Regions from separate parts of the Homo sapiens genome. Here region 1 is linked to region 2. Evidence: fine-mapped expression QTL. A gene starts in region 2. The other region holds a variant in brackets. All regions are shown on one strand. Distances are between the middles of the regions.

Evidence for each region.
Region 1: its variant is fine-mapped to the expression of NFE2L1 in whole blood (TOPMed, PIP above 0.99).

What each region holds. Positions count from the first base shown.
Region 1 is chr17:48,014,004-48,029,146 of GRCh38, forward strand. COPZ2 (coat protein complex I subunit zeta 2) reads right to left here. Exons shown (of 9, transcript NM_016429.4): 7 at 15,122-15,143; 8 at 14,469-14,507; 9 at 12,164-12,472. The coding sequence ends at 12,425. Among named protein-coding and RNA genes, the nearest start is that of MIR10226, 11 kb to the right of the region's middle. RefSeq lists enhancers at 1,022-1,523, 1,524-2,023, 3,701-3,800, 12,225-12,783, 12,784-13,340 and silencers at 10,370-10,499, 13,724-13,990. The variant G/T (reference allele first, on the strand shown) is at 10,580.
Region 2 is chr17:48,044,301-48,052,300 of GRCh38, forward strand. NFE2L1 (NFE2 like bZIP transcription factor 1) reads left to right here and starts at 4,059. Exons shown (of 6, transcript NM_003204.3): 1 at 4,059-4,162; 2 at 6,307-7,328. The coding sequence starts at 6,819. It overlaps NFE2L1-DT (NFE2L1 divergent transcript), which reads right to left and starts at 3,753. Exons shown (of 2, transcript NR_170231.1): 1 at 3,325-3,753; 2 at 2,581-2,670. It also overlaps a transcript of COPZ2 not described here. RefSeq lists enhancers at 2,831-3,434, 3,279-3,468, 3,435-4,036, 3,539-3,778, 4,037-4,638 and a silencer at 4,189-4,468.

The DNA.
Region 1 (15,143 bases), 27 kb before region 2:
CCCAGCCCCTAGTCACCCTGCCTCCTGAAGGCCTGTCACCTACCTGAAGGCAGCTCCACTAGAGTGACAGCTCCTGTTGGCCCTGGCTGGCTCAGGGCCTCTGGGGAGGGTATGGGGGGATGGTGGGTTGGGAGAGAACTTTTGTGGGGCCTCCTTCAGTCAATGGTCTACAGCTCTGTCTTTGTCTGTCTGTCACTCAGAAGGGAACTGCTGAAGGGAGAGGTCAGGCTGGTCGGTAGAAAGGGAGAAAGAGGCCTATCCCTGTCAGAGAGGGGTTGGGAAGAAGGCAGGCAAGGGGACCGAAGCTCCTTCAACCTCCTCATCCTCTCCCACTCCAACTCCTGGGCTGTTTCCCCTAGGGAATTCCAGGCTTTGCTCATTTTAGGACCAGGGCAGCAACTGCACACAAAGGCCCTTCTCTTCTTGCCGTGTGAAATCCTGGCTCCCCATTGGAGAGCTACTCCCTTACCCTGCCCTGTCTGCAAGAAGAGGCTGCCAAGGGGTCTAACTCAAACCTACAAGGCAGGGAGTTCCATTGCGTTCCCCTTCCATGCAACCAGCACCCTGACTCCACCCCTGTGCTTGCCCGTGTCCCTGCTCGCGCCTGCCACATCAGATTCCCCAGGCTCCCTCACCCCCCCGTGCAATTTAAAGCAGATTCATCCCCTGAGAGCCCCAGTTTCCAGGCCACCCTAGCTTCTACTGTACACTATCCTATCTCCCCAGATTGTGCTGTTTCCAGTCTCCCCTTGTTCCCTCTGCACACGAATCTTCCTCCCCAGATTCAACTGTTTTCAGGCTACTCCCTCTGTCTGCCCCCTGTACACGACTGTCTCCCCAGATCCTGCTGTTTCTAGGTTCCCCCATATTTCCCCGGTATACAAATTGGCCTCCCTGGATTCAGCAGTTTCCAGAAGCCCCTTGCTCTCTCACTAGGCAGTTCCATCTCCCCAGATTCAGCTGTTTTCAGGCTCCCTTCATTTGCCCTGTACACAGGTACCCCTCCCAGGTTCTGCTGTTTCTAGGCTTCCCGATTTCCCTTGTATACGCATCAGTTTCTAGCTTATGTTGATCCCAGCTGCCTAAGGGATTCAGCAGGTTTAGGGAGAGTGGAAGGAAGAAGAGAGTCAGAAAGAGGAGGAGAAGAAAGATGGTCATCAGGGAAGCTCCGGATTTCTCTTGTGACCCTAAGCAGCTTGCATATGACAGCCTCTGGGCCTCTGCCTCTACAAATAGGTCCCTTAAGGCCATCTGCCCTGGGATACCCCAATCCCCTCCCCATTGCTGCTGCCCAGGATCTGAGCTTTAAGTTGGACATCCTCCGGAGGGCCCCCGTCTTGGCAGGAGTGCTTATGCTTGCATGAGGTGGGACAGGCAAGAGCCTTCCCAAGCCAGGAGTTCCCTTGTCTCTCCTCTGCTATTTCCTTCTTGCCTTCCCAGCACCCACGCCCGCCCCCTTTTTTTTTTCTTTTTGAGTTGGAGTTTCACTGTGTCGCCCAGGCTGGAGTGTAGTGGCGTGATCTCGGCTCGCTACAACCTCTGCCTCATGGGCTCAAGCAACAATCCTGCCTCCGCCTCCGGAGTAGCTGGGACTACAGGCGTGTGCCACCATGCCTAGCTAATTTTTGTATTTTTAGTAGAGACAAGGTTTCACCATGTTGGCCAGGCTGGTGAACTCCTGACCGCAGGTGATCCACCTGCCTTGGCCTCCCAAAGTGGTGGGATTACAGGCGTGAGCCACTGTGCCCACCCCCACCCCTTGTCTCTTTCTCATGTGTTGCACCTTAGCTCTCCTCAATTTATCCACATACAATTTATTTTATTTTATTTATTTATTATTTTTTTTTTGAGATGGAGTCACAAAGTGCTGGGATTATAGGCGTGAGCCACCACGCCTGGCCTTTTGTTTTATTTTTGAAACAGTCTTACTCTGTCGCCCAGGCTGGAGAGCAGTGGCATCATCTCATCTCACTGCAACCTCTGACTCTGGGGTTCAAGTGATTCTCCTCCTTCAGCATCCTGTATCCACATAGAATTTAAAGGAAACTCCAAATGCACTCCCAGAACTAAAGGGAGTACAGAACTAAAGAGTCACACTTTTTTTTTTTTTTTTTTTTTTTTTTTTTTCAGTTTTCAAGATGGAGTAGTATCAATCTCAGGCCCTGGAAACTGCCCCTGGACTAGTTTCCTGGCATGCTTCTCCAGCCTTTGTAAACAACTGTTTCATCTGCAGACTCCCTGCATCCTAATCCTCCTTGGGGCTGGAGGTGGGAGGGTATGGGAAGTGTTCTGCAAGGTACTCCAGTCTTCTTATCTTCTCTGACTCATTTAGCTACTGCCTGCAAAGTTTCCACTGGAATCTGGGGAAATGGTCTGATCCCTCATCGCCTTCCTCCATATACAGCTGCCTACCCATTAGACTAATCCCAGCCATTTGTCAGTCACGATGCTCCATCATACTGGCCCCAGCAAACTTTCTGGTTTCACTAAGAAATAAATAGGAAGGGCAGGCCCACTGGGTCCAGGATAGTGCCCTACAAGGAGACCTTTCTTCAAAATGAAATCCATACCTGGGTTCAGGCCGCATTGCTTCTGCTCCCAGCACCCGAGAGCATCCTCAATCACCTCACAAGTGGGAATGACAACGCCTGCCTCCTTCACTGAGATAGAGGTACAAAAAAATTACATGTGTGAAAGAAATAGAATACTTTTACGGATCCTGACAAATGTGAGTTTACATAAATCCTATTAAAAGAACATTGTGCAAGAAGCTTTTCTGTGTCTTGTATATAAATTATCCTCAGAAAAGAAGTGCAGCTGATGGGACTCACTTATTAATTTCATTATTTAAAAAACAGACGTGCTGGGCGTGGTGGCTTATGTCGGTAATCCCAGCACTTTGGGAGGCCAAGGCGGGAGGATCACTTGAGGTCAGGAGTTTGAGACTAGCCTGGCCAATATGGTGAAACCCTGTCTCTACTAAAAATACAAAAATTAGCTGGGCATGGTGTTGTGTGCCTCTAGTCCCAGCTACTTGGGAGGTTGAAGCACGAGAATCACTTGAACCCAGGAGGCACATGCAGCAGTGAGTCAGGATGGCGCCACTTACTCCAGCCTGGGCGACAGAGCAAGATTCTGTCTCAATAAATAAATAAATAAATAAATAAATAAATAAATAAATAAATAAAATAAAAATTAGAAAACGCTATTGGAGCCAGCCATGGTGGCTCCCAGCACTTTGGGAGGCCGAGGTGGGCAGATTGCTTGAGCTCAGGAGTTCGAGACCAGCCTGGGCAACATGGTGAAACCCCGTCTCTACTAAAAATACAAAAATTAACCAGGCATGGTGGCAGGTGCCTGTAATCCCAGCTACTCAAGAGGCTGAGGCAGGAGAATTACTTGAACCTGGGAGGTGGAGGTTGCAGTGAGCAGAGACTGTGCCACTGTACACTAGCCTGGGTGATAGAGTGAGACTGTTAAAAAAAAAAAAAGCATGCAAAGAAAAATGTGCATTGGGGTTTTGAGTCAAGAGCCCTGCTATTTTTTCTTACTGCCCAGGAAGGCACTCCTTGTCAAGGGAATTCTATTTATAAACGTTATATTCTCATGATCTGCAGAAAACACAGGGCAGAAAGAGGAAGAGGTAAGAGGGTTCCAGGAAACCCTCTTTCTTGTCTCAGTTCTGTCCCTTGTTAGCTGTGTGACATTGGGTAAGTCAACCTTTGAGTTTCACTTTCCTAATCTGAAGGCCTCTAGCTTGCTCTCCCAGAAAGATCCACTTTTTTTTTTCTACCTTAGAGTATAAACTTCAGTCAGTGCCCAAGCCCCTCAGACCCCTTCCTCAACCTCCCAGCTACCTTGGGGAATGGGTCCAAATCTCCAGAGTTGGAGGAAAAGGTCTGTATTTGTTTTCTGTTTGTTTGTTTGAGACAGAGTCTCACTCCATCACCCAGGCTGTAGTGCAGTGGCGCAGTCTCGGCTCACTGCAACCTCCATCTCTTGGGTTCAAGCAATTCTCCTGCCTCACCCTCCCGAGTAGCTGGGATTACAGGCATGTGTCACCATGCCCAGCTAATTTTTGTATTTTTAGTAGAAACAGGGTTTCACCATGTTGGCCATGTTGGTCTCGAACTCCTGACCTAAAGTGATCTGCCCACCTCGGCCTCCCAAAGTGCTGGGATTACAGGAGCGAGACACCATGCCCAGCCAGGTCTGTATTTCTTGACAGTGTTTCTTGATCAGAGGCCCTGTTTTCTCAGGACAATTGCTGTCCCAGGTGCCCAGGGTCTCTCACCTTCGTGTTCCCATGGAGGTGCTCACAGCTCTGATGTGGGAACCCCCAAGGTTCTCCTCTGTGGTCTAGGGAGTATCTAGGAATGGACTGCAATGCTCAGCACTGTGAGATAACTCCTGCCCAATAGAGAGTAGAGATGCCCTCTAGGTCTGGTTCCTGCAAGCCTTTTCATAGTCCCGTCACTGATCCCGGCCAGGCTAAGGATGAAAGAGGGGCTTGTCTTACAGCACCATCTTCTGGGCAAACCTGTGAGAGCTACTTCTTCTTGCTGCCATCTGGAGAACACTGAGATTTTGGGGGACTTTGGGTCCCAGAAGTTTTGTTTGTTTGTTTGTTTGAGATGGAGTCTCGCTCTGTCACCCAGGGCTGGAGTGCAGTGGTGCGATCTTGGCTCACTGCAACTTCCATCTCCCGGGTTCAAGCGATTCTCCTGCCTCAGCCTCTGAGTAGCTGGGACCAGAGGCGCACGTCACTATGCCCAGCTAATTTTTGTATTTTTAGTAGAGACGGGGTTTCACCATGTTGGTCAGGCTTGTCTCAAACTTCTGACCTCGTGATCTGCCCACCTCGGCCTCCCAAAGTGCTGGGATTACAGGTGTGAGCCACCACGCCCGGCCGATTCCAGAAGTTTTTATCTTACCTGTTTCCCCAAGATAAATTAATTCTGGACTTTTCCAGCCATCTCTTAGGAGAGGATGTTCCAAGAGCCCTCCAACCTTCCAAACACAAGGCTGCTAGGAATGGTAAGCAGCTGAAACCAGTCTTCCAATCATTCCACCCAGAACCTGAGTCCTCACCTACTCACCCCATATATCCCCACCCCAGAACACCCTGTCACTCACTAAGAAGCTGTTGTCTGGAAGCAAGGTTATAGCCTCATCACTTCCAGAGTTTTCTTCTATCCTCAAGTTTATTTGTTTGTTTGTTTCAGATGAGGGCTCACTGGCAGCCATGAGAGTAAAACACATATTTTCAATCTCTTAAAAATCAGGTGTCTGGATTGGCTGTGATGGCTCATGCCTGTAATCCCAGCACTTTGGGAGGCTGACTTGGGTGGATCGCTTGAGTCCAGGAGTTCAAGACCAGCCTGGGCAACATGGCAAAATCCTGTCTCTACAATAAACAAAAAATTAGCCGGGTGTGGTGGCATGTGCCTGTAGTCCCAGCTACCTGGAGGTTGAGGCTGCAGTGAGCCATGATCACGCCACTGTACTCCAACCTAGGCGACAGAGCAAAACTCTGTCCCTTAGGAAAAAAAAAAAAGGCTAGGCATGGCGGCTCAATCCTGTAATCCCAGCACTTTGGGAGGCTGAGGCAGGAGGATCACTTGAGCCCAGGAGTTTGAGAACAGCCTGGACAACAAAGTGAGACCCCCATCTCCCTACCAAAAAAAAAAAAGCAAAAAAAAAAAAAGCAAGGTGTCGTGGTGTGCACCTATAGTCCAAGCTACATGGGAAGCTGAAGTAGGAGGATCACTTCTCCCCAGGAAATCAAGGCTGCAGTGAACCGTATTCATGCCACTGCACTCCAGGCTGGGTGACAGAGCAAGACCCAGTCTCAAAAAAAAAAAAAAAAAATCAGATGTCTAGACAAAGAGAAATTGTGGATCTGGTCAAATGGAATCAGATCCCTCTTGCTACTTCTTTTTCTTTCATTTGAAGTGTATGTGTCTATTTTCAGAGTGGGGTACGTGAGAGTGATAAGAGGGCACTAAATATATAAGATATAAAGTAGACTTGTGTTTTTTTTTGTTTGTTTGTTTTTTGTTTTTTTGAGACGGAGTTTCGCTCTTGTTGCCCAGGCTGGAGTGCAATGGTGCAATCTCAGCTCACTGAAACCTCCACCTCCCGGGTTCAAGCAATTCTCCTGCCTCAGCCTCCCGAGTAGCTGGAATTACAGGCACCTGCCACCATGCCTGGCTAATTTTTTTTTTTTTTTTTTTTGTATTTTTAGTAGAGACGGGGGTTTCACCATCTTGGCCAGGCTGGTCTTGAACTCCTGACCTTGTGATCCACCTGCCTTGGCCTCCCAAAGTGCTGGGATCACAGGCATGAGCCACCGTGCCCGGCCGACTTGTTATTTTTAAACATACTTTTCAGAACCTAAATATTCAGATCATTGTCCCTGACAAAATGGTCCTTTTGGAGGGCCTTTTTTGGAATGATTGCCTGCAATTATCTGAATTAATTCAAGCACCAACTCTTCAAATTCTGAGAGTGGACTTGATTTTTGCAAGCTGCTTGGTGAGTAAGATCAGCAATCAAGCTGGGTGGTACTGTTTTAGATCAAGAATGAGAAGTGACTGTAATGAAAATATTTCGTTTTGGGGGTCATAAATTGACCCTGAATTCCTGTTCTCTTCTTTAACCCAGGTTCCATGTTGCTAGCAGAGTTCCTCCCTCAAAACATAGAGCTGATATCACTTAACAGCTTGAAAATCTTCAGTGGTTCCCTATTACCTTCAGAACACAGGCCAAGTTCTTTACTGACTTTTTGTTTTGTTTTGTTTTGTTTTTTTGAGATGGAGTTTCGTTCTTGTTGCCCAGGCTGAAGTGTAATGGCACGATCTTGGCTCACCGAAACCTCTGCCTCCTGGGTTCAAGCGATTCTCCTGCCTCAGCCTCCCGAGTAGCTGGGATTACAGGCATGCACCACCACACCCTGCTAATTTTGTATTTTTAGTAGAGACAGGGTTTCTCCATGTTGGTCGGGCTGGTCTCGATCTCAGGTGATCCACCCACCTTGTCCTCCCAAAGTACTGGGATTACAGGTGTGAGCCATGGCGACTGGCCACAAGCCAAGTTCTTTAGCTCTGTGGTTGGGGTAAAGAAGAGCCAGCAATGGAGTCAGACCAGAATGGGTTTAAATCCCACCTATGAGCTCTGAGGCAAGTTATTCAGTCTCTCAGACTCTCAGCTCTCTCATTTGTAAAAAGAAGGCTAACGGGCCAGGCGCGGTATACCCAACACTTTGGGAGGCCAAAGTGGACAGATCGCTTGAGCTCAGGAGTTTGAGACCAGCCTGGGCAACATGGTGAGACCTCGTGTCTATTAAAAAATTTTTAAAAATTAGCTGGGTGTGGTGGTACATGCCTGTGGTCCCAGCTACTCGGGGGACTGAGGTAAGAGGATAGCTTGAGCCCCGGAGGTTGAGGCTGCAGCGAGCCTATCAATACCTACTTTGTTAGGTTGTTTTGAGGACAATGGTAATTTTAAGGTGTATATAGTAGCAAACTCAATAAATAGCAGTCATTCTTCAGCATGGCATTCATTGCTCACTGCGACCCAGTTGCAACCTATCTAGAAGAAACCTCAGATCTCAACACACTCCCTGCAGACACACACCATTCCAGTTACATTTGCCTACTGAAATTCCTTAAACAATACAGAGATTTTTTTTCTTTTTCTTTTTTTTTTTTTTTTTTTTTTTTTTAGACAGGGTCTTGCTCTGTCCTCCAGGCTGGAGTGCAGTGGCATGATCTCAGCTCACAGCAGCCTCAGCCTCCTGGACTCAAGTGATCCTTCCACCTCAGCCCACGGTGCCCCCTCTCCCCCCAGTAGCTGGGACTACAGGCACACACCACTACACCCAGCTAATTTTTTTTTTTTTTGTAGAGGCAGGGTTTTGCCATGTTGCCCAGGCTGGTCTCGAACTCCCAGACTCAAGCAACCTGCCTGTCTCACCCTTCCTAAGTGCTGAGATTACAGGCATGAGCCACTGCGCCCAGCCTAAACGGAGATTCCTTACCTCTGGCCTTGCTTATGTTGTTGCTCCCTTTGGGGTGTCTCTTTCCCCATCTTCCTTCTTTACATGTTATGTAATACACCGTTTCCTCTGTGAATATTTATCATTTCCTTATCTGCATACATGACTTTGTCCCCAGCCAAATTGTAATCTCCTTGAGTCAGGAACTGTGTTTCCCAATTCATTTTAGAAGCTCCCAACAATCCCCAGCAAGGTACCTGGCCTGGAAACAGCCTGTTAGTAAATGTCTGTTGAACGAATTCATTCCAAAAGAGTTTATTTTATTATTATTATTAACGTTGCTTTTCTTACCAAAGGGTGCATTTTGAGGAATGGCGTTAATCTATATGTGCAGTATAAAATTTACATGTGTCTCACACTCTTATTTATTTAGAAACTCATCTAACATGTTTACCAGTTTCTGTTCATAGAGATGAGGAAGAGATTAGGAAACAGATGAGGACCATACACACATTGATGCTAGAATATAATTTGGCAGCCATTCGATTAATTTCTTTTTTTTTTTATTGAAGTATGACTTACCTACAGGAAAGAGCACATATCTTAAGTGTAAACTCTGTGACTTTTTTTTTTTTTTTTTTGAGACAGAGTTTCACTCTTGTTGCCCAGGCTGGATTGCAATGGCAAGATCTCGGCTCACTGCAACCTCCGCCTTCCGGGTTCAAGCAATTCTCCTGCCTCAGCCTCCCCCAGTAGCTGGGATTACAGGCACCTGCCATCATGCCTGGCTAATTTTTGTATTTTTAGTAGAGACGGGGTTTCACCATGTTGGTCAGGCTGGTCTCGAACTCCTGACCTTGTGATCCGCCCGCCTCAGCTCCCCAAAGTGCTGGGATTACAGGTGTGAGCCACTGCGCCCGGCCTGTGACTTTTTACTACTACTCAGATCAAGATAAAGAACATCATTTGATTTTTAAAGGCGTTTCTACTTTCAAATATCTCTTAAATCCCTTCCTGCCTTTTAACCTCCACCCTCACCCCACTACGGAGTCTAATCAGTCTCTCTCTTTCTTTCCCCAGTGCCTGGCTCATGGCAAACACTCAAATATTTGAAATAATGAATCAACAAACAAATATTGTTGAATGAATGAGACCTAAATTGGAAGGAAATGGAGGTCTGTAAGGTTGTGCCCAGACTGTTTTGGGTAAATTATTCAACATTACCTGCATCGGCCTCCAAAGTTAAAGGGTATCTAGTAGGAATTTAGAGGTAAGATTTTTTTTTTTTCCCCCGCTATATAGCAAAGTTTCAAAGGGTGGTTAAGGGCACAGAAAATTTGAGCCTCGGGCGGTGTCCTGCTCATCCCCCTGCACCCCACACCCAGGCCTGGCTGGCCCCACCCCCGCCAATCTTTGCAGCCCTGCAAAGCGCCCAGCCCGGCTGCGGTCCCGCCAGCGGGGAGCCATCCATCACCGCCTGAATGCCAGCCAACCCGAGCAGCCCCGCCTTCCTGCCAGCCAATAGCCGGAAGGCAGGGGGCGTGCGGGGCTCTAAGTGGTATAAAAGGGGTCCGAGGGCCAGGCCGCGCTACCTCTGCGCCCCCAGTTGGCTCTGCTTGTTGCTGGCGTCCTGTTCCGTGCCAGAGCCCCCGGGCCGGTGTTTCTGTGCGTGCCGTCTGGCTGGGCCCTGGCTCCTGGGGTCTGGGTTTCAGACGTGCCCCGGTGCCCATTCTGCTGGAGGAAAGAAGAGGCCCTGAGGCCCCCTTCCCTTATACACTTGGGGCCCGCAGGGTCGCCCACGAGGGCAAGGGGGTGGAGGAATGCAGAAAGATGCAGAGGGGCCCTGGGGATGGCAGGACACTGGAAGGCAGGCCCTGGCTGCTCTCCCGCACGGAACCGCCGGCCGCCCTTCCCGAAAACCAGTCCTCCGCGCTCCCCTCCGCGCCCGCCGGCTCCGGCCTGTGGCAGCGCTAATGAGGCAGTCTGGAGGAAGCCGGTGCCAGCGGGCAGGACTCTGGGCGGCAGGCCAGGCTTGTCATCCTGGCGGCTCTGCCGAGCTGCGGGCGCCACGTGGGAGCTGGGGGCACAGCAGCCGGCGGCCCTCCACCCCCAGCGGGGTCTCCGCCTCAGCCCCCGGAAAGCTGGGCCTGCAAACTCAGGGTCCTCTGGAAGGGGCAGCGCCCTTCCTTGCCGGCCCTCCCGGGTCCTCTGGCAGTGCTGCGCAGCCCGCTCTGCGCTGTCCTCTCCGCCGCGGCGTGGGTCCGTCGGCTGCTTCGCAGCCGCGCCGCTCCCCACAATCCCTCAGCCATCGCGGGCGAGGACACCTTTCCGGTCGCCTCTCGGCATTGCCATGCCCCCTCAGCCCCTTCCTTTTAACCTAGTACGGTTACTGTGTGGGCCAGGGGTTCGGATGGGCCTAGGGCAGGGATGCGCGAGAAAGCCACTTGTCCCCAGCAGTTCCCCATCCGGAGCCCCGCCCTGCGAAAACTACACCAAACACGTCAACCTGAGGCTCAGTGTTCCCTTCCGTAAAATGGGGAGAGCATCGCGTAATTCACAGGATTCGGTGAGCCAGTTTGT[G/T]TGAAGGGCCCAGCCTCCTGCCTGTCCCTTTACATTCCCGTCCCTGCTACATTGGAATAGCAGGGCCGAGGCGGGCGCGACCGCGTTGCTAAGAAGCGCATTTGCCCGTCCCTCCTTGCGGTCGCTTAAGGGTGGTGGAGGAAGCCAAGCCCTGGGTGTGGCCGCATATTTGCCAAAATATTTCTGGAAAATGTCTCCTTTCTTGTCGCCATACTAGCCCCTGAACTCCACGGAATTTAACCGAATACTCTTTTTTTTTCTCCCCTTCCAAGAGTTGCCATTTTGCATTATTTACTGGGACGGGTTACGTACTCAGCGCTTACAATGTAAATGTTTACATAACTATATCATTTTCTCTAATTGCAGAAGTAGTCAAGCCCGTTATAAATGTCCAATCTTAAACAGTTTTATAATGTAGGACTTGAAAGCCGCAGGGACAACTTCTATTAAGGTCCACGGCTCGCCACTTTCCCTCCTTCGCTGAAATTCCTGTGCCCACGCTGGCGCAGCACTAGCAGGGTGGGTCACGCGTGCAGGTTGCTAGGGCAACGTCCTGTCGCCGGCGTCGGAAACCAACCAGTAACTCTCAGGAGCCGGAGTCGGGTCCGCCCTGGGGGCGGAGTTAGTCAGCAGGTCGGTCCGGCGGGAGCGCGTTTCCTGCCGGTCCCTGCAGGTGGCACCATAGGATCGCGGATGCTTTCCTGGGGCGGGGCTTTCCTGGGGCGGGGCTTCCCGCAGTGCTCAGCGCACTCCAGGGGCGGGGCCGGGGTGGAGCCGGGGTGGAACGTGAGCCACCAGCTGCAGTCCGCAAAGGATCGAGGGAAACGAGCTGTCCCGGGACGCAACGCTAGACAAGCTCAGGGACGCATTTACAGGGACGCAGAAAGTGTACGCGTCAGAGAGTGGAAAGGAGAAAACAGGTTCTGGGACGGCGACAGAGAAGGGAAGTCGTGTCGCCCAGAAAGGCTATACAATCTCCACCCTTCCCGTTTGTCCCTGCGACACCCTTTCACCCTCCTGTCCCTCCGGACCTGCAATTCTTCACACCCTCTGCAGCGCACAGGGTGCTCAGGACACATGTGCACGGTGGGGGCTGGCGATGCTTCCTCGCCCCCACCACCCGCAAGCTTGCAGAGAGCTGTAGTGCCCAGGATGTATGCCAGGATAGGAATTCCACGGTTCCAGGCATGCCAAGAAAAATAGCCATGCTGTTTCTCGGTTTGTTCAGAGGAAGCCTTACCTCTCTTCCCTTCTGGAGTTTGGGAATGGAAAAAATGACTCAAGGAATCCCCAGCGGAGCTACCATGTATGTACTGCATTGCAAAATAGGGGTACCATATTTTGCTCTCCCCTACCTGGCAGTATGCGCCACACATGGGGCTCCGTGGTATCAGCGTCGCACCCCCTCATGGTGTTAAATAGTCCCCTTTCCCTTGTCCCACATCTCTGCCCAATCACACAACCACAGGGACACGCCCCACCCTGGTACTGGATATCCCCACGATGAGCCACAGAAAGTGCAGGAGCCCTTATATGAACACACACACACACACACACTTCCTAGGCCAAGAGAGAAGGAGACCCTTGGCAGAAGACAAAAGCAGGTTTATTAGGGCCCTGGGGCCAGGAATGCCTAAGATATGAGTTAAGGCCAGGGCCGTGAGAAAAGGTGACTCTCCTGAGGCCAAACCTTTGCATCTCAGAAGCCCTGGCTGGAGACCTTAGGAGTCAGTTCTGGGAGGGACCTGGGGATACAGAGGGGTCTCTCCTGACCCTGGGATCTTTGGGCTTTTGCCAGGATTGGGGAAATGATCTGGGGGGCAGGGAGCCTTGAATCCACAGCCTTCATTTCAATAACGACCATTTAATTTGTTCCTTGGCAGACTGAAGAACCTGGGGTGGGGTGGGGGAGGTTGAGAGAGAATTGAGAATGTCAAATGCCTCCATACACAGTCATGGGGAGGTCCACAGCCCACCTTGCCGAAGCGCCCCTGCAACCACCGGTCACTAGGTGGCAGCAGCTTGTCTCCACTTGGCTTAAACGCGGCCAACCCTCCAAGTCAGAAAGCGCAGACCAAACCGGCTGCAGCCAGCTCCCACCTCAGGCCCAAGCCTGCCCAGACCTCTGGCTCCTGCATCTGCAGCGTGGGTGTGGCAGCAGCCTGTCTCCCCGCTGTCATGCCATGAGAGTTCCCGCCCACAGTGCCACGTCCAGGCGGAGACGGGGCCCAGGCCTGACACTCCCTGTGCTCAGACGCCTCAGCAAACCCCTAGCTCTGGCCATGGCTGGCAATGTGTCCTCAACACCCCACCGCAACCCACTGCTGATGTGGCATAGCTGGCAAAGGGTGGCCAGCCAGACCCTGCGGTGGGATGCCTGGTGGAAAGTCTCAGCCCAGTGCTTACACAAATCCATATAAGTGCACACGTGCATGCACAATACCAAAGCAGGAGAGGGGGACAGGACTCAGGTGTGTCCCTCAGATTGTCCCTCCAGCCACTCAGCCTTATTCCCCTCTAGAGAAGGAGGGAACGCTGTGTCTCCTCCTCCTGCACAGTCTCCCTCCTCTCTTGGGGACAGTGGCTTAGGGTTCCCCTGATTCTCCTAGCCAGAATCTAACTTTGTCCTCATTTTATCCCCCATTGGCTACCTGTAGCTTCCTTTGTTTTTACTCAAGAATTCCATCAAAAATGCTATGTTTTCATTCTTTCTCCCTTTGGAGAAATACTGATGGTTATTCAGCATGTGTTAACTGGCTTGGAGCCCTACTAAGAGCTTGTCACGCATTGGCTCATTGAATTCTCATAACTCCATGAAGAGGGTCCTGTTATTATGTGAGGCCCAGAGAGGTTGAGTAACTTGCCCTAGGTCACCCAGCTTTAGGTGGTAAGGTAGAACACGTACCCTGGGATGACTCCCATGAGCACCTGTGTTCTTATCTGCTCTGCTTATTACTCCCTACCCTCTTTCCACTCTAAAAATTGCCTTGCAGCTGCATTCATTCCAGCATGGTATGAGGAAACATGGGGAATCAGAGGGGAGGGCGAAGCAGAGTGAGCGCTAAGGGCAGTGCAGGAAAATGGGCGCCACACCTGGGACTCCACACGAGACAGCACAGGCTCATCTCGGTAGGGCCACCACAGCACGAGGAGTTAGCGCCAGGGCGGGAAGTTCCATACAAGCAGGATTAGTCTGAGCAGAGAGACCTGCAGGTGGACAGAAGAGAGGTCAAGACAGTCGTCCTGAACTAGCAGGAAGTTTGTGCAGCTGGGGAACTGATCAGGCTTCAGAGCCAGGAACCTCCCCCTGGCCTTACGCTCTGCAAGCACCTCCAGATAAGACCATGCAGGGTTGTGGCAGGTTCTTCCATAGCCAGGTCACTCAGGGGTAAGGTGACAAGTGATGAGTGGGGAAAGTCAGATCCTATCATGGGTTTGAGAGTCCCTTAACAATCCCAGTGTGCACCCTAAGTGGCAAGGACAGGGGTTAAGAGCCAAACTCCTATTTGGTACCCTTTCCAGGTTTCGGTAGAGGGCGCATCAGAGGCCTGAGTTCCCAGATTTTTGGGGTGCACAAGTGACCCAGCCATCTCCAAGGTAGGCAGCTCATCCTAGTTTCAATCCAACTAAACCAAGCCAGGAGATGAGGTGGGCTGATGGTAACATGCCCATCCATCCATTAGTACCCAGCTCCCCTGAGTTGGAGAGCCCGGAGGCCTCCAGTGAGTCTTTCCAAGATATGACCTGTCACTGCCTCATCCCTTCCCTTCTCACCCCTGATTTTTCAGACTTGATAACTTCACTGGGTCCCCCTAGGATGCTCTAGGATGCTCTGCTCCCCGTATCTCTCTAGACCATTTCTAGCCAAGGCAGATGCAGGGGGGCCTACCTGGGCCACACTCTGTTCAGTCAAGCCGCCATCATCTGCCTGTAAGGAAGCAGAGTCAAGGGGTGGGGTAGGGCCAGCATGAGGGTCCTGGGTCAGGGAGGTGAAGGAAAGGGGCTTGGGGGTATGGGTGAGGTGGTGCAGTGGTTAGGGTGATTCAGAGCTGCACCTGTGTCACTGGTTAATAGAAGTCCTGCAGCCTGTCATTTGGAAGCCAGGACCTCTGGGATTGTGCTATGGTGCGTGGAGGGTGAGGGAAGATGGGAAGAAAGATGGGAAGAAAGGTTTCATCCAGACATGAGAAAGCCAAACAAGGCAGGGAGGTTCTATCCATACCCCTGACCCCCAACCTCAAGGCCAAGGCAGCCACCTAGTGCCTCTTTGAAGATGTATTTATTTCCCCAGTCTATACTTCCTACCAGGAAAGAGGTGAGGTACTTGTGCTCCTAGCCGGGGAGAGGACAGGAAGATTTCTTCCATTAACTGGCATCCCACCCAGAAACTGCTGCTCATCTCACCCCTAACAAGTGTGTCAGCCCAGTGGTTGGCTTCTGCTAGAGGAGCTTGGGCTTCTACCATCTAGGCCCTAGCAGCCCTATTCCCAGGGAGGACAGGAAGGGCAGCCTAAAAGAGGAGGTGTCCAGGAAGACTCTTACCCTAAAATTCACCTTCTGGATC
Region 2 (8,000 bases):
GGTGTCACTGCACTCCAGCCTGGACCACAGAGCGACTCCATCTCAAAAAAAAAAGTCAGATAATCATTCTAGTCTGTGTTCCCGTATTACCACAATCTTTTGCTTTTTTTTTTTTTTTTTTTTTTTTACCCCAATGTGGATTCTTGCTCCAACCTAGTGATTCTCTACTCTGGCTGTGCATAAGAATCACCTGAAGAGCTTTTACAAAATACTGATGTCCAATTCTGCTCTGGGCAGCTGTTTTAATTGGTGTGGGGTGGGACCTGGGCATTGGTATTTCTTACGAGCTACCCACCTGGGTGATTCTAATATGCAGCCAGGATTGAGAAGCAATCTTCTAAGAGTGTGGTAGTGGTGCATAGGAAAGAGGCTGGCTTGCAGGAGAGCTTTACTTTTTGGTGGTTTAATGGTAACAAGCTTGCTGATGATGTTTACCATATAAGAGAGAGGGCCATATGTCCGGATTTGCCAGAAAACTAATTGATTTCTTTGCAAAACATGCTAACATTTAGTATTGACATGATGTATTCCTACCATCTCTCAGGACTGTAAGGAAATCTCAGGCAATCATCTATCTAATCTATTCCCCTGGATTAGATGAGGTTACAGAGTAAGAAATACTTATATGGATTAGCAAAACTTAAAGACATGTTTTTCTTTTTATTATTTTTTTTGAGACAGGGTCTTACTCTGTTGCCCAGACTGGAGTGCAATGGCGCAATCACAGCTTACTGCACCCTCAACCTCCCCAGGATCGGGTGATCTTTCCACCTCAGCCTCCCCACTAGCTAGGACTACAGGCATGAACCACCACGCCTGGCTAATTTTTGTATTTTTTTTGTAGAGATGGGTTTTCACTATGTTGGCCAGGCTGGTCTCAAACTCCTGGCTCAAGTGATCTGCCCACCTGGGCCTCTCGAAGTGCTGGGGTTACAGGTGTGAGCCACTGTGCCTGGCCTTAGAGACATTTTTAGAGGAAAGATAATGGACAACCAGAATGGCAGAAAGCCTGGGTTTCCCTTTTAGGGAAAAAGCAATTTCACTGTTCCAGAAGAAATCAGAGCCCCAGCCAGCCTGCCCTCCCACAGCCCCTTCTCTGAGGATTCCTGGCATGTGTCATCCTCCAGGGATGACTGCAGGATGGATGTGGCTGTTGGCGGCAGCAGCAGCTTTTCCTACCAGGGAAGCTGGGTCGGTAGACACTACACTGCTATTCCTGGGGTGGGGGTGGGGATTTCCGTGTATGTTTTATAGTTAGCTGGCCCCAAATCCGTGTGCTTTAGACCTAACCCTCTTCTCGGCTTCCACTGCCTTCTTCTCTCTCCTGCCCAGCCTGGAGTCGCAGGGGCAAGGCCTAGTTTTACAATGGCTGCCAGCCTTTCCCTTAGGGAGCCACATGCATGCGCTCACTTTTTCCAGTGGTCTTCTCAGTCTGATTTAATGGATATACCGGGACTGATGACACATCAGCATGGGATCCTTCTTTTGCTTCTTGGGTAACTGTCCTATTAACAGCTGTCCCAGGCAAAGGGAGGGGGAGAGTGTTGGGGGAAAGGAGGGGGTGGCTTCCTGGGTGAAGAAGGACACACCCTGGGTTTTACAAGGTTAATCAGCAGGTTCTGGGAAAGCTTGCACCTGCTCAGACTTGATCTGGAACTCTAGACAGAATGGAAGACAGTCTTTCTGTCTCCACTCCCTTCCATGGAGCATCAAATATCCTGGGCGCCCACACCCTGCCAGGCCTAGGCCTGCTGTTGCGACTGAGTTTGTCTCTACACCTTTACTCTCTTCGGCCCTTGCAACTCTTTCCCTTTTTCTGCCCACCTTTGTGAAATGGCTAAGCAGGAAACTCCACAGATAAACGATTGTCCAGTTTTAGTTTGAACTGTTAGGACTGAAAATTGTTCTGTATTTTTCTGTCAAAAAAAGACCAACTTTAGTATGCTCTTTTCACCTTCTCAAAATTGTCTTGTAGTTAAACACTGTAGTTGAGCCTTTATATCTCTCAATTTTATGTTTTGTTTTGTTGAGGAAGCATCTCACTGTTGCCCAGACTGGCACCATCATAGCTCACTGCAGCCTCAATCTCCCAGCTCAAGAAATCCTCCCACCTCAGCCTCCTGAGTAGTTGGGACTATAGATGTGTGGCACCAAGCCCAGCTTGTTTTTTTGTAGCGACGGGGGTCTCACTATGCTGCCCAGGCTGGTCAAGCAATCCTCCCGCCTCGGCCTCCCAAGGTGCTACTGTGAGCCACTGCGCCGGGCCCAGTTCTATGTTTAAAATACTTCCTTCTCAACCTTATTTATTTTTAGAGTTGATGGCCACACCTAAATATTCCTCCTTTCTTATACAATACCAGTCTTTATCTTCATTGTCTCACTACTTCGGGGACTGAATGGTCTCCTATTTTATTGTTAACATGCCATATCCTTCAAAACTGTACATCCTCCAAGGTGTGGTTAATTTCTGCTTTTAACAGGAAAATCAGAGGCCTGCCTGCTTGAGTCCCCCTTCAAGTACTCAGTATTTGAGTGTCTACTAAGTTATAACAGTTAACGCACAAAATTCTAGTCCTCATGTTGTTTATACTCAGGTATTTATTGGGAGACACGCGTCAGTAGTCCCTGATAAATGGAAAGATCGCTTGAGTCCAGGAGTTCCAGTCCAGCCTAGAATAGGTAAAACATGCTCTCTGAATTAGTCTTTGAAACTGGTAAACTAGCTCAGAAGTTTTTTTAAGAATTCCATGAGTGGTTTGCTGGTGTACGTTTATTATATGCAGTGAAAGTACTTAATCTGCAAACCACCCCAAATTAAGCCCCTAACTCGCAAGCACAAAATGGACTCGATTATTTACTGAGTTATCAGTTGGCCTTGTCCTTAGTTGTACAGGGACTAATGACTCACCTATAAATAATGGGCTCTTCTAAGAAGACACAGTTGAGTTGACACCTCTTTGTCCTATAGCTGGGAGGAACGCATTGCAAACGCCAACCCAATGATTCCCTAAATGGGGTCTTCGCATCAGCTGCGTTAAAATCACCCCAGCAGGCAGGTTATCCGGCCGCCACTCCAGGGTCATTAAATCAGACTCTCCAGTGGGACCTCGGAATTCGTAGCTTAGCAAGCTCCCCAAGTGATGCTGGGAGTAAACTAACGTTTGAGAGTCACAAACATGTTTTGGCAATATAACCAGATGGGACTGGAGAAATTAAAAAATGAGAAACATCCCTAAAAAAGCAAGACTAAGCTGCGTGGGAGGCCAAACGAGGGGGGTCCTTTGGGCTGTTTCTACCATGACAAAAATCGCCATTACCCCACACCTCTCACACCGCCAACGTTCCGCCAACGTTCCGCCAACGTCCCACCACCCTCATGATATCCGTCCGCGGTACTGCTCCAGCGAAGGTACCCTTGCCTGGGCCATGAGGCGCAACCGTCCCTCACAGCTGGGGTGGCTTCTCCAGGTTCGCACCGAGGGGAAGTTGGGGTACCGGTTTCCGCCGCCAGCACCCAAGATGGCGGCACGAGCGTCGCAACCACAAGAACCACATGCTTCGTGTCCCGCCTCAGCATTCTCGGGTCTCACTAGACTTTTGCAAGTCACTGTGGGAACCCTCAAGGCGAGGGTGTTCCGCACTCTGGCGGCGATACACCTTCCTATTCCCTGACCTAGGCCTTCATTCCCCCGCCACAGAAAGCGCTGGAAGCGCCCAACCTGGATACTTCACCCAACGCCCAAGCCCACTAACATCGCCCGCCGCGAAGGCGCGGCCGAGGGGCCCAGAATGCCAGACACTAGGGCCTTCGCCCTCCTCATTGGTGGGTCCATACCGCGGGGCGGGCCTAGGTACTCATTGGGCCGGGAATTATGTCAGTCTTGGGAAATCAGGTCCGGGGATGAGGAGGTACACTCAGCCATTGGGCCCTCTCTGCTGCCAATCAGAGGGACATCCGTCGACGGCCCCGGCCTCGGCTCGTTGATTGGAGAAACTGTTCCTAGGGTGTTTGCGGCGGGCGGGTTTCCGAGTGCGGTAGCAGGAGGGGGCGGGGAGGTAAGCGGAGGCTCCGAGCTCTAGGCCGGCCGGCGGTGGCGGCGGCGAGGCCGGGACTCGGGCTTAGGGCCTGCTGTGGAGGCAGCGGCGGACGCCGAGCTAAGCAGTGGGTATCGGGCACATTCCTTTCCCAGAAGGGAGGGTTGCAGCGCCGCGGGGCCGAGGCTTATGGGGCGACGGGATGGTGCTGAGGTGCAGGAGGCGGGGGCCGAGCGGGGTTCCCGCCAGAGCCCGGCCCTGGGCCTGACAGGGAGGGGCCCCGCGCGGGGCCGAGAGGAAAGCTGGCTCCGGGGTGGGATGGACTGGGCAGGGTTGAGGGCACGAGAAGGCGTGGTGTGAGGCCTGGACTTGGGAGTGGGGTGGGGCCATCGGGACGGAGGGCGGGGTGGGGTTTGCTGTAAGGGTGGGTCAAGGCCAGGGAAGTAGCACTTGTTCGCTGGCCGCCCCTGGAGGCTAGAAGCTCCGGCGCCGAGAGTGGGCATGGCGACTTGGTCTCAGCCGGACTCGGGTATCCGGGCAGGGTGGGACCAGCCTCAGGCTATGGGCCCTGCACCTACTTGATTTTTAAGGGACTTTGTCCGGTTCCTCGAACTTAATTGGCTCCTGGGAGGTTTTAGTAATAAATTGCGTGAGAACGGGAGGGTAGCGTAAGCAGGAATTCTGGGTCGCAATTGTGTTTACTCTGACCAGAGAGAGGGAGTGTGAGTGTGTGTGTGTGCGCACGTTCGTGTGTGTACGTATAGCTCGCTCTCCCCCTGTAGAATGAAGTTGGTAGATGGGTCACAACGCAGGAGAGGAGAGGCGGTATGTCTTGGTTTGTGACATTAATGGAAGCTCAAAAGTGGAGACCAGAAACAGATTTACTTCCTCTGCACTGGGCAGTCTGGCTAGAGAACGTGGCCATATCCTTCTGCTTTGGCTCAGAAGGTCATATGAATGAAAATAAAACCTGCCTATGCAAATTCTGGACGGAATAGTCCTGCGTAGTAGGGCCCCCACCATCCCTCTCCTTTTTTTCTTTCCTTTTCTTTTCTTTCTTTTTTTTCTTTTTTTGAGACGGAGTTTTGCTCTTGTTGCCCAGGCTGGAGTGCAGTGGCGCGATATCGGCCCACCACAACCTCCGTTTCCTGGGTTCAAGCGATTCTCCTGTCTCAGCCTCCCGAGTAGCTGGGATTACAGGCATGCGCCACCACGCCCGGCTAATTTTTGTATTTTTAGTTGAGATGGGGTTTCTCCATGTTGTTCAGGCTGGTCTCAAACTCCCGACCTCGGGTGATCCGCCCTCCTCGGCCTCCCGAAGTGCTGGGATTACAGGCGTCGGCCCTTTTCCTTTTTTTTCTTTTGTAAGTTGTGAGGATAGGAAAGGGAAATCAGATTTCAAAGTTCAGAAAACAAAAGGCATTCTTCTTCTGGGTGAAGTGGTGGCCTGAACATTGTCCTTTTGTCCTTCCACACTCTCACTGTTTAATAATCTTGCCTTTTTGAACTGAGAAAAGACAACTGTTATGGGTGGTTTTCTCCCGAGGGGTGAAAATCCAGCTTTACTTTTAAGACAGGAAATGGGCTTCTCATGTGAAAATAGAAGCTGGGTAATGCGCCTGTAGTGGGGGAGGAGGGCTGGTAAATAAAACAAAGGTGTAAGATATTTTGGATGACCTGGTTATTGTCTGCTTATTCAAACCAAGCTACATTTTAGGATATTGCACATTTAATATTCAGTAACTGAGATCATTCGTGATCAGTAGCTTTCTTTGATAGTTCTTCTATGATCGGTTGCTATATTTTGGGTTTTTTTTCTGAGAGTGTAAGTAGTCCTTTCTTCCTGTAAAAGTGGCCTTTAGGCCAGGCACAGTGGCTCACGCCTGTGATCCCAGCACTTTGGGGGGCCGAGGCGGGCAGATCACCTGAGGTCAGGAGCTTGAGACCAGCCTGGCCAACATAGTGAAACCCCATCTCTACTAAAAATACAAAAATTAGCAGGGCGTGGTGGCAGGCGCCTGTAATCCCAGATACTTGGGAGGCTGAGGCAGGAGAATCGCTTGAATGCAGAAGGTGGAGGTTGCAGTGAGCACAGATCACGCCACTGCACTCTAGCCTGGGCGACAGAGTGAGACTCTGTCTCAAAAAAAAAAAAAGTGAAAGTGTCCTTTGAATGTGTTTTCTACCTTCTACTGTGAAGGTTTTCCTACCCTGATCATGATGTGAAAAGTATGGAATCTTATCCTGTTGCTTTTGTGATTCCCATTTCAGGTTTCTCTGGAAACCCCCCTGGTAAGTGTGGAGGAGGCGGGACACTCTGACCCAAGACGAAAGGCCTGTAGCTCCAGCCAAAGAAAATAAACCTTAGGAGGGAGAAGGAAAAAAAAAATCCATCAGCTGTTCCTGAGAACAGCCTGCATTGGAATCTACAGAGAGGACAACTAATGTGAGTGAGGAAGTGACTGTATGTGGACTGTGGAGAAAGTAAGTCACGTGGGCCCTTGAGGACCTGGACTGGGTTAGGAACAGTTGTACTTTCAGAGGTGAGGTGTCGAGAAGGGAAAGTGAATGTGGTCTGGAGTGTGTCCTTGGCCTTGGCTCCACAGGGTGTGCTTTCCTCTGGGGCCGTCAGGGAGCTCATCCCTTGTGTTCTGCCAGGGTGGGGTACGGGGTTTGACACTGAGGAGGGTAACCTGCTGGCTGGAGCGGCAGAGCAGTGGCCTTGATTTGTCTTTTGGAAGATTTTAAAAACCAAAAAGCATAAACATTCTGGTCCTTCAGCAATGCTTTCTCTGAAGAAATACTTAACGGAAGGACTTCTCCAGTTCACCATTCTGCTGAGTTTGATTGGGGTACGGGTGGACGTGGATACTTACCTGACCTCACAGCTTCCCCCACTCCGGGAGATCATCCTGGGGCCCAGTTCTGCCTATACTCAGACCCAGTTCCACAACCTGAGGAATACCTTGGATGGCTATGGTATCCACCCCAAGAGCATAGACCTGGACAATTACTTCACTGCCCGGCGGCTCCTCAGTCAGGTGAGGGCCCTGGACAGGTTCCAGGTGCCAACCACTGAGGTAAATGCCTGGCTGGTTCACCGAGACCCAGAGGGGTCTGTCTCTGGCAGTCAGCCCAACTCAGGCCTCGCCCTCGAGAGTTCCAGTGGCCTCCAAGATGTGACAGGCCCAGACAACGGGGTGCGAGAAAGCGAAACGGAGCAGGGATTCGGTGAAGATTTGGAGGATTTGGGGGCTGTAGCCCCCCCAGTCAGTGGAGACTTAACCAAAGAGGTTAGTGGACCTGTGGTGGGTGTGTGGGGCCTGGGGCTTGGGGGTGGGCTGGTCCCAAAGGATTGTGGTCAGAACACTGAGCCCTGTAAAGAGCCAGACAGGTTTCAGCAGGGCCTCAGGCACTGTTCTTGGGTAGGGATGGGCTGAACTTTCTGACTTTAGGATTGGGGGCTGGGAGCATTTCCCTGTGTTGAACCATTGACCTACCTCTAAATGTACTGTCAGGGCAGTGGGAGGTTCCTACACATGCCAGGGTGTTTACTGCTTGGATTTCAGCGTGACTGCTGGAGGCCTGGGGTGGGGGAGGAGTCATGTTGTGATGGGCTTTGATGCAGTGTACATCTGTTGCTAAGACACAAATACTTTTTGGACTCTTGTTTTGTACCTCCCCCCACATCAGAACACAGACATACCCTGAAGTTCTCCTTTGTGGCGAGGCCTGTTGTTGTATTGTCCTGATAATTCAGACCTCCTGGGCCTGAGCCAAAGGGTAGATTTGGATAGTTATTCTTGGCCAGGAGAGGGCCAAGGCTTCCAATCTTTGCAAAAGGCCCACTGCAGGGAGTAGGGAAGAGAAGTCTGGGAGCTAGAAAGAGAAACTGCATTCTGCTGCCCAAGTCAACTTGCTTTGAGCTGTCAGAAGAGATCCTTAGCTCTTGTCACATGGCTGAC